2 linked regions of the Homo sapiens genome follow. The protein of the gene in region 2 purifies or fractionates together with the protein of the main gene of each other region. This does not show direct contact. Each region holds a gene or a part of one and is shown on either strand. Other genes may lie near its edges.

Evidence for each region. The genes of interacting proteins can lie anywhere in the genome.
Region 1: the proteins of ALDH1L2 (region 2) and TTC5 purify together in Homo sapiens (affinity purification with mass spectrometry, with the first as the bait; one large-scale study listed by BioGRID). This does not show direct contact.

Annotation. Positions count from the first base shown.
Region 1 is NC_000014.9:20,285,727-20,288,951, forward strand, and holds the end of TTC5 (tetratricopeptide repeat protein 5), read right to left. Parts: 3' UTR 501-3,225; downstream 1-500. UniProt on the Homo sapiens protein: Cofactor involved in the regulation of various cellular mechanisms such as actin regulation, autophagy, chromatin regulation and DNA repair.
Region 2 is NC_000012.12:105,049,959-105,053,458, forward strand, and holds part of ALDH1L2 (mitochondrial 10-formyltetrahydrofolate dehydrogenase precursor), read right to left. Parts: intron 2,974-3,500; coding exon 2,854-2,973; intron 2,260-2,853; coding exon 2,132-2,259; intron 753-2,131; coding exon of another isoform or gene 734-752; exon of another isoform or gene 531-733; intron 101-530; coding exon 1-100. UniProt on the Homo sapiens protein: Mitochondrial 10-formyltetrahydrofolate dehydrogenase that catalyzes the NADP(+)-dependent conversion of 10-formyltetrahydrofolate to tetrahydrofolate and carbon dioxide.

The DNA.
Region 1 (3,225 bases), on a different chromosome or scaffold from region 2:
CACACGTATGTTTATTGCAGCACTGTTCGCAATAGCAAAGACTTGGAACCAACCCAAATGTCCAACAATGATAGACTGGATTAAGAAAATGTGGCACATATACACCATGGAATACTATGCAGCCATAAAAATGATGAGTTCATGTCCTTTGTAGGGACATGGATGAAGCTGGAAACCATCATTCTCAGCAAACTATCGCAAGGACAAAAAAACCAAACACCACATTTTCTCACTCATAGGTGGGAATTGAACAATGAGAACGCATGGACACAGGAAGGGGAATACCACACTCGGGGAACTGTTGTGGGGTGGGGGGAGGGGGGAGGGATAGCATTAGGAGATATACCTAATGCTAAATGATGAGTTAATGGGTGCAGCACACCAACATGGCACATGTATACATATGTAACAAACCTGCACGTTGTGCACATGTACCCTAAAACTTAAAGTATAATAATAATAAAAAAAAGAGAGAGCATTAAGAAAATGAAAAAGCAAGCTGCGATTTGGATAAATATATTTGAAAAACATAATTTATAATGGATTAGTATCCAGAACATGTAAGGAATCAATAAGAAGACAACCCAATAAAAATTGGACAAAAGAAAACAGAGATTTCATAGAAAAAGAAACAGGAATGGACAAAGAAATGTAATTTATGCCTACTATGTGATATTTTATAATCATCTGGTTGGTAAAAATTAAAAAGCTAGACAATTTCAAAAAAAGAAAAAGACAGACTGGGCTTTAAAGATCAGTAGGGAAAGGATTGATTCTTTAATAAAAGGTGCTGGGCTATTTACTCATTATGAAAAAAATTATATCCGTACATAACATAAAATAAAGTCATACTGTAAGAAAAGGACAAAATAACTTCATAAAGCAGTAGAGGGAAAATGTCCTTATGACTTTAGGAGAGCTAAGAACCTCTTAAAACACAAAAAGCATTATCATAAAAGATGGATAAATTCAATGACATTGAAATTAAGAACTTCTGTTCAGCAAAAGACCCAATAGAATAAAAAAAAAAACAGGATAAAACTGTATGTAGACAAACGATTAGTACAGGGAATATATAAATCAATTTGACATCCAATACAGCAGTGTGCAAAGACTCGAATAGGCATTTTACCGAGAGAAAATATTAGTGGCTTCTAAATATATGAAAAGATGCTCAAGCTCATTAATAATCAGAAATGCAAATTAAGGCCACAAGGAAATAATACTCAAATCTCCTGTATTTGCAATACCTAAAAGATAATACCAAGCACAGAAGAGGATGGGGAGCATTGGGGTGACTCATCTATTGATAGTAGAGACATAAACTAATATAAGCACTTTGGAAATGTTTAGTGCTTCTCAAAAAAGTTGAACATGTATATACTCTATGATCCAGCAATTCCATTCTATGTCAATACTCTTAAACAGTGGTTCTCAAATTTTACTGTGCATCAGAGTCACCTGGAGGGTTTGCGAAACACAGATTGCTGGGCTCCTCCCACATAGTTTTGAATTCAGTAAGTCTGGGTAGGGGGCTTGAGAATTTGCATTTCAAAGAAGTTCCAAGGGATGCTGATGCTGCTGGTCTGGGAACCACTCTTCAAGAGCCATTGCTGTAAAAGAAACTTTTGCACTTACATATCAGGACATATACAAGAATATTAATAATGTAGTGCTTTGGTAGTAAAAAAAGAAAAACTGGAAACCCAAATATCCTTTAACAACAGGATGAATAAATTATGGTATAATCATACAATGAGATTTATATAGCTGTGAAGACAAATGAGATCATGGAGAGGTATGCAAGGGCTTCCAAGTTATCAATGATGTTCTAGTTTTTAAGGCAGGTGGATATTTTATGGGTATTCTAGTTATTCCTGAAACCGTATGTACAAATTTTGCATACTTACTTGTTTGTACGCACTGCTTCTCTGTGGCTACCACCTACTGGCCATTTTTCTACTCTCTAGCCCTACACAGAACATGTCAACTCATCTCAGAATTTGAGTAAAAGGGGAACAGTATTTGGGTCCCACATCTCTACTGCCTCAAATGTTTACACATACTACTACCCCCATCTTCCCTAGTTGCTTTCAGCCAATTCTCAAGTTATTTTTATACCCCACAAGCTCCTAATCACTCTTCTATGACTCTAGGCCTCAAAATGACACCCAAAACTAATTTAAGACTCCATATGTGGTATAACAGACAGTACTTCTAATAAAAACTGTCTCTTGCTACCATAGGTTTTTTTGGTGCAGTCCATGAAGAGTGTTCTTGCAAACTATATCAGACTGGTTACTCATACTGACTTTAGCTTATCTACTAAGATTCTTAGTAATATTCATATATGATGTTGAAGCTATACCTGAGAATGTAAGCCTTTTTGGACCAAAAGAATGGACTGAAAATTTTATCTTATTAGACTCAGCCTTTATGACTTCTTAGATAGAGACAGATAGATAGATAGATAGATAGACAGATAGATAGATAAAACTTCTCTCATCAATGCATTTCTACCATCCATTCTCTGAGGAGGCCTCTGCACTCTTTATAAATTTAATGAGTCATCAATGATATTCAAGGCACTGATCAAAAACTGAACAGGACTGGACCAAGAACAAAGATCTGAGCCATTTCACTAGAAGACTTCTCAATTCATCTGTATACATTAATGTATTACAGCCATTCAGTTGTTGTTGCTGTTTGAGACGGAGTCTCGCTCTGTCGCCCATGCTGGAGTGCAGTGGCATGATATCGGCTCACTGCAACCTCCACTTCCCAGGTTCAAGCAATTCTCTGCCTCAGCCTCCCCAGTAGCTGTGATTACAGGTGCCTGCCACCACGCCCAGCTAATTTTTGTATTTTTAGTAGAGACGGAGTTTCACCATCTTGGCCAGGCTGATCTTGAACTCCTGACCTCGTGATCCACCCGCCTTGGACTCCCAAAGTGGTGGGATTACAGGCTGAGCCACCGTGCCAGGCCAATTCAATTGGTTATTAATCCTCACTCACATTTCTCCATTTTACCACAAGGATATTAAGATAAACTGTTATAAAACATGTCACTAGACTCTAAAGAAACTGAGGATTTATCTAACTCTCTCTGGTCCTTCAGCCTAGTAACACTATTAGAACAGTATTGCTCTGTCATCTTGGACCATAGTGAAGACCACCCCTAGGGAATGACAGAATGGGAAAATGGAAGAAAGCTGGTCTCTAGCA
Region 2 (3,500 bases):
TCCAATGTGTGTCTTCAGGGCCAAGGTATAGACAGCCCCTGAATCAAGGGCTTCAATAGTTGCCAGCTCTTCTTGGTTCTCTTCCAGTAGGTCTGCAAGTCTGTGTGGTCAGTGAAAGAAATAAATTCAACAAGTATTGATTGAGCTCCTGTCACATATAATGCAGTATCCTAAGGACGGAGAATTCAGAGGTAAACACATATGGATCAGATCTCTGCCCTTATAGAGATCATGGTCCAGTAGGCAAGAAAGACATTAAACAAATATTTTCATAAATCATTTGTTTCAAGAATTACAAAGGAGAAGCAGAGGGTATTGGAAGCATATATAACTTGCCTCATCTATGTGTAAGAAGTAGAACAATGACTGAGCCAGTACCAGTCATTGGAACCACATTCCCAGAACCCACACTTCTGAGAACCCATGAACATTTGAGGATTTCCAGTTGGCACAAAAATATTTCCAAAACTAACTGAAGAGACAAGATAGCAACGTACACAATGAATTACAAACACTGCAACAGATTTCTGTTTGGTGTTCACAAGTTTTATGGGAAGGTAAGTGCAGGACTGTATAATGACTATGATACGGTAAGACTCATCTTTTGTGTTCAACTTCTCTATTTATTTTTCTTCTGTATTTGTAGTGGTTCTCTGAGCTGTTCCTTTGGGGCCACTCTAGAGTCCAGCTTGAAATCCCCCTCCGACAATCTTTGTTCCAGATCTTGCTTGTATTAGTTCATTCTCATGCTGCTAATAAAGACATACCTGAGACTGGGTAATTTATAAAGGAAAGAGGCAAGAGCATGTGCAGGGGAACTGCCCTTTATAAAACCATCAAATCTCATGAGACTTATATACTTTCATGAGAACAGCACAGGAAAGACTTGCCCCCATGATTCAGTGACCTCCCACTGGGTCCCTCCCATGACACATGGGAATTATGGGAGCTACAATTCAAGATGAGATTTGGGTGGGGACACAGCCAAATCATATCATTGCTCTAGGAGATCTATTGATCTAGGTCCGATATTGGATTTTAGGTAAACAGCAAATGGAATTTATGATTGAATCTAATCACTCCTGGCATCCTTCATTACTGATTTATAATATTCTTCCCAGTCCTTATTATTTTTCTTCCTTGTTCCTATTCCTTACACATCAAGTGGATATAAAATGTTTTTTTAAAACAACAGGGTACTGGATATTCTCCACTTGCCGCTCTCTGTATCCATTCTCCACCCTGCTCTGTGACCTTGACCCTGGTGAATGACCTTTATAGATTACATCACCTGGCTCCCTTGCTCTCCCATTGGGCTTGGCCAGTGAGAGACCACTGGGAGGCACCCGCAGAATATTGGTGAACTGAAGGAAAAAGTGGCTGGGGAGTTGGATTCCCTGGCTCCCTCGCTGATAGGCTGTGGTTCAGAAGCTGCCATGTCCCTCCACTGCAGTGTGGTTTTCTCGTATAGCTACAGATCTTGCCAGATTCCAGTAACAGCTCCTTCCCCTGTCCCTTCAGACCTTGACATAGCAGCTTCCCCCTGCTGCTAGCCCTGCCTGGATGTTTCAGTATCCTTTATTGGATTTCTTTGACCTCGGCCACGTCTTTGTGAACAGTTCTTTATTAAACTTCTTTTCCAGCTGGGACCTGCCTGATGCAAGCAATACTAACATAATCAACATATATAGGATTTAATATGAGTCAAGTAACAGAAGACATATTTCATATTAGGTGAATACTAGAATGTTTTGCAGGAATTTTTAAAATCTTGGCAATGTTAGCCAATATCCAAAGGTAGTAGACTCACTTTGTTTTGCTTCTTTTTTTTCCTTTTTTTTTTTGAGACAGAGTCTTGCTTTCTAGCACAGGCTGGAGTGCAGTGGTGCACTCTCGGCTCACTACACCCTCCACCTCCTAGGTTCAAGCAATTCTTCTGCCTCAGCTTCCTGAGTTGCTGGGACTACAGGCACGTGCCACCACTCACGCCTGTAATCCCAGCACTTTGGGAGGCTGAGGCAGGTGAATCACCTGAGGTCAGGAATTTGAGACCAGCCTGGCCAACGTAGTGAACCCCTGTCTCTACCAGAGTTACTTTTCTAAAAAATAAAAAAATAAAAAATAGAAATACCTATACATCAATCTTCCTCTTTCTCTTGCATTCATTCTTCCCCATTCACCGTTTTCAAAAGCATCTTTTGCTGCTGCTACTGCTTTATCAACATCCGCCAAAGAAGCGTAGGATACTTTGCATATTGTCTATTTCAAGGTAAGTAAAAATAGGCCCCATGAGAGATATGAAAATATGGTTCTTGGAATTAATATTGTATTAATAGAAAAAATAGAGTATTACTGATTTTAAAAAAAGTTATGATAAGAAATGAGTATATCTAGTACTACAGTAAAGAAAAAGAACAATTTTAATATGAAAATTGTGAACCAGAAATTTAGTACTTCTCATATCATACTACTTTATGGAAGAACACATTTAGGAAGATTGGAAGACTGTAGTTCTTCCAGTGCTTTAGGAAAGCTGAATTTCTTGCCATGAGTCTTCAAAGTCTGGAAAGTTTTTTCACATATATCTCTATGCAGATGAGTGCCTCTGGTGTGTATAGGTAAAGCTACCTGTCTAAATTTATCATAAATGTTCTATAAAATAGGTTACTACAGTTAATAGCAGCTGGTACCAGAATTGAGTCATTGAAAGAAAAGCATGAAGTACATTTGTGTGAAGTACTTAGAGGCAGAGTGAGAGAATAAAAGGGCTTCTTAAGACTGCCTCTTTTACAATGGTGTATTAACTAAAAATCCATGACCAGTGATCACTACTCACACTAAAGAATTACTCACAGATCCATCTGTTGGGTTGATAGTGTCGTAAGTCTTTCCATCGTCTGCATCTGTGAACTGTCCATTTATGAAACACTGGTATGGCATTTTTACCATGATTTCATTGACCTCCTTTGAAATCTGAGAGAAGTATATTAATAGATTCAATGGATTTCCGTGTTTACCAATTTGATGTCAAACAGCAATAAAGAAGCATATTCACGAATGCAGAGGGAGAAGTCAATGACATTCTAGTTCCGACTGTACAGAAGACATGCATATGTGAGATTTGGGCCTCAAGATGCTTGCCTTGGCCACTGGGGCAGGAGGGTAGAAGCTGTGAAGACAGAAGTGCTCTAGGCCAGGCTTTATACAGATTTCAGATTTTCTTTCTTAACAGATAAAAGGTAACTCACAAGACCTCTAGATAATGGAAACACCACCATCTAGTGGCAGCATTGGTGGAGCGCAGCTGTTGCCTTCATTGAAATCATTGAAAATGCCTTTGTCAATAGGTTTCCTTTTACACTGGTGCCATTTTAAGTTTGCTTTCCTTAAGTTCCTCTCTGTTTTCACTTTTTGTCTGTTACACATGTGTTGCGTAAATTGTACTCTCTGCCAGTGGCTGGCAAGCAAATTGAGGTTAGTCAATGAACTTTGATGAGGCT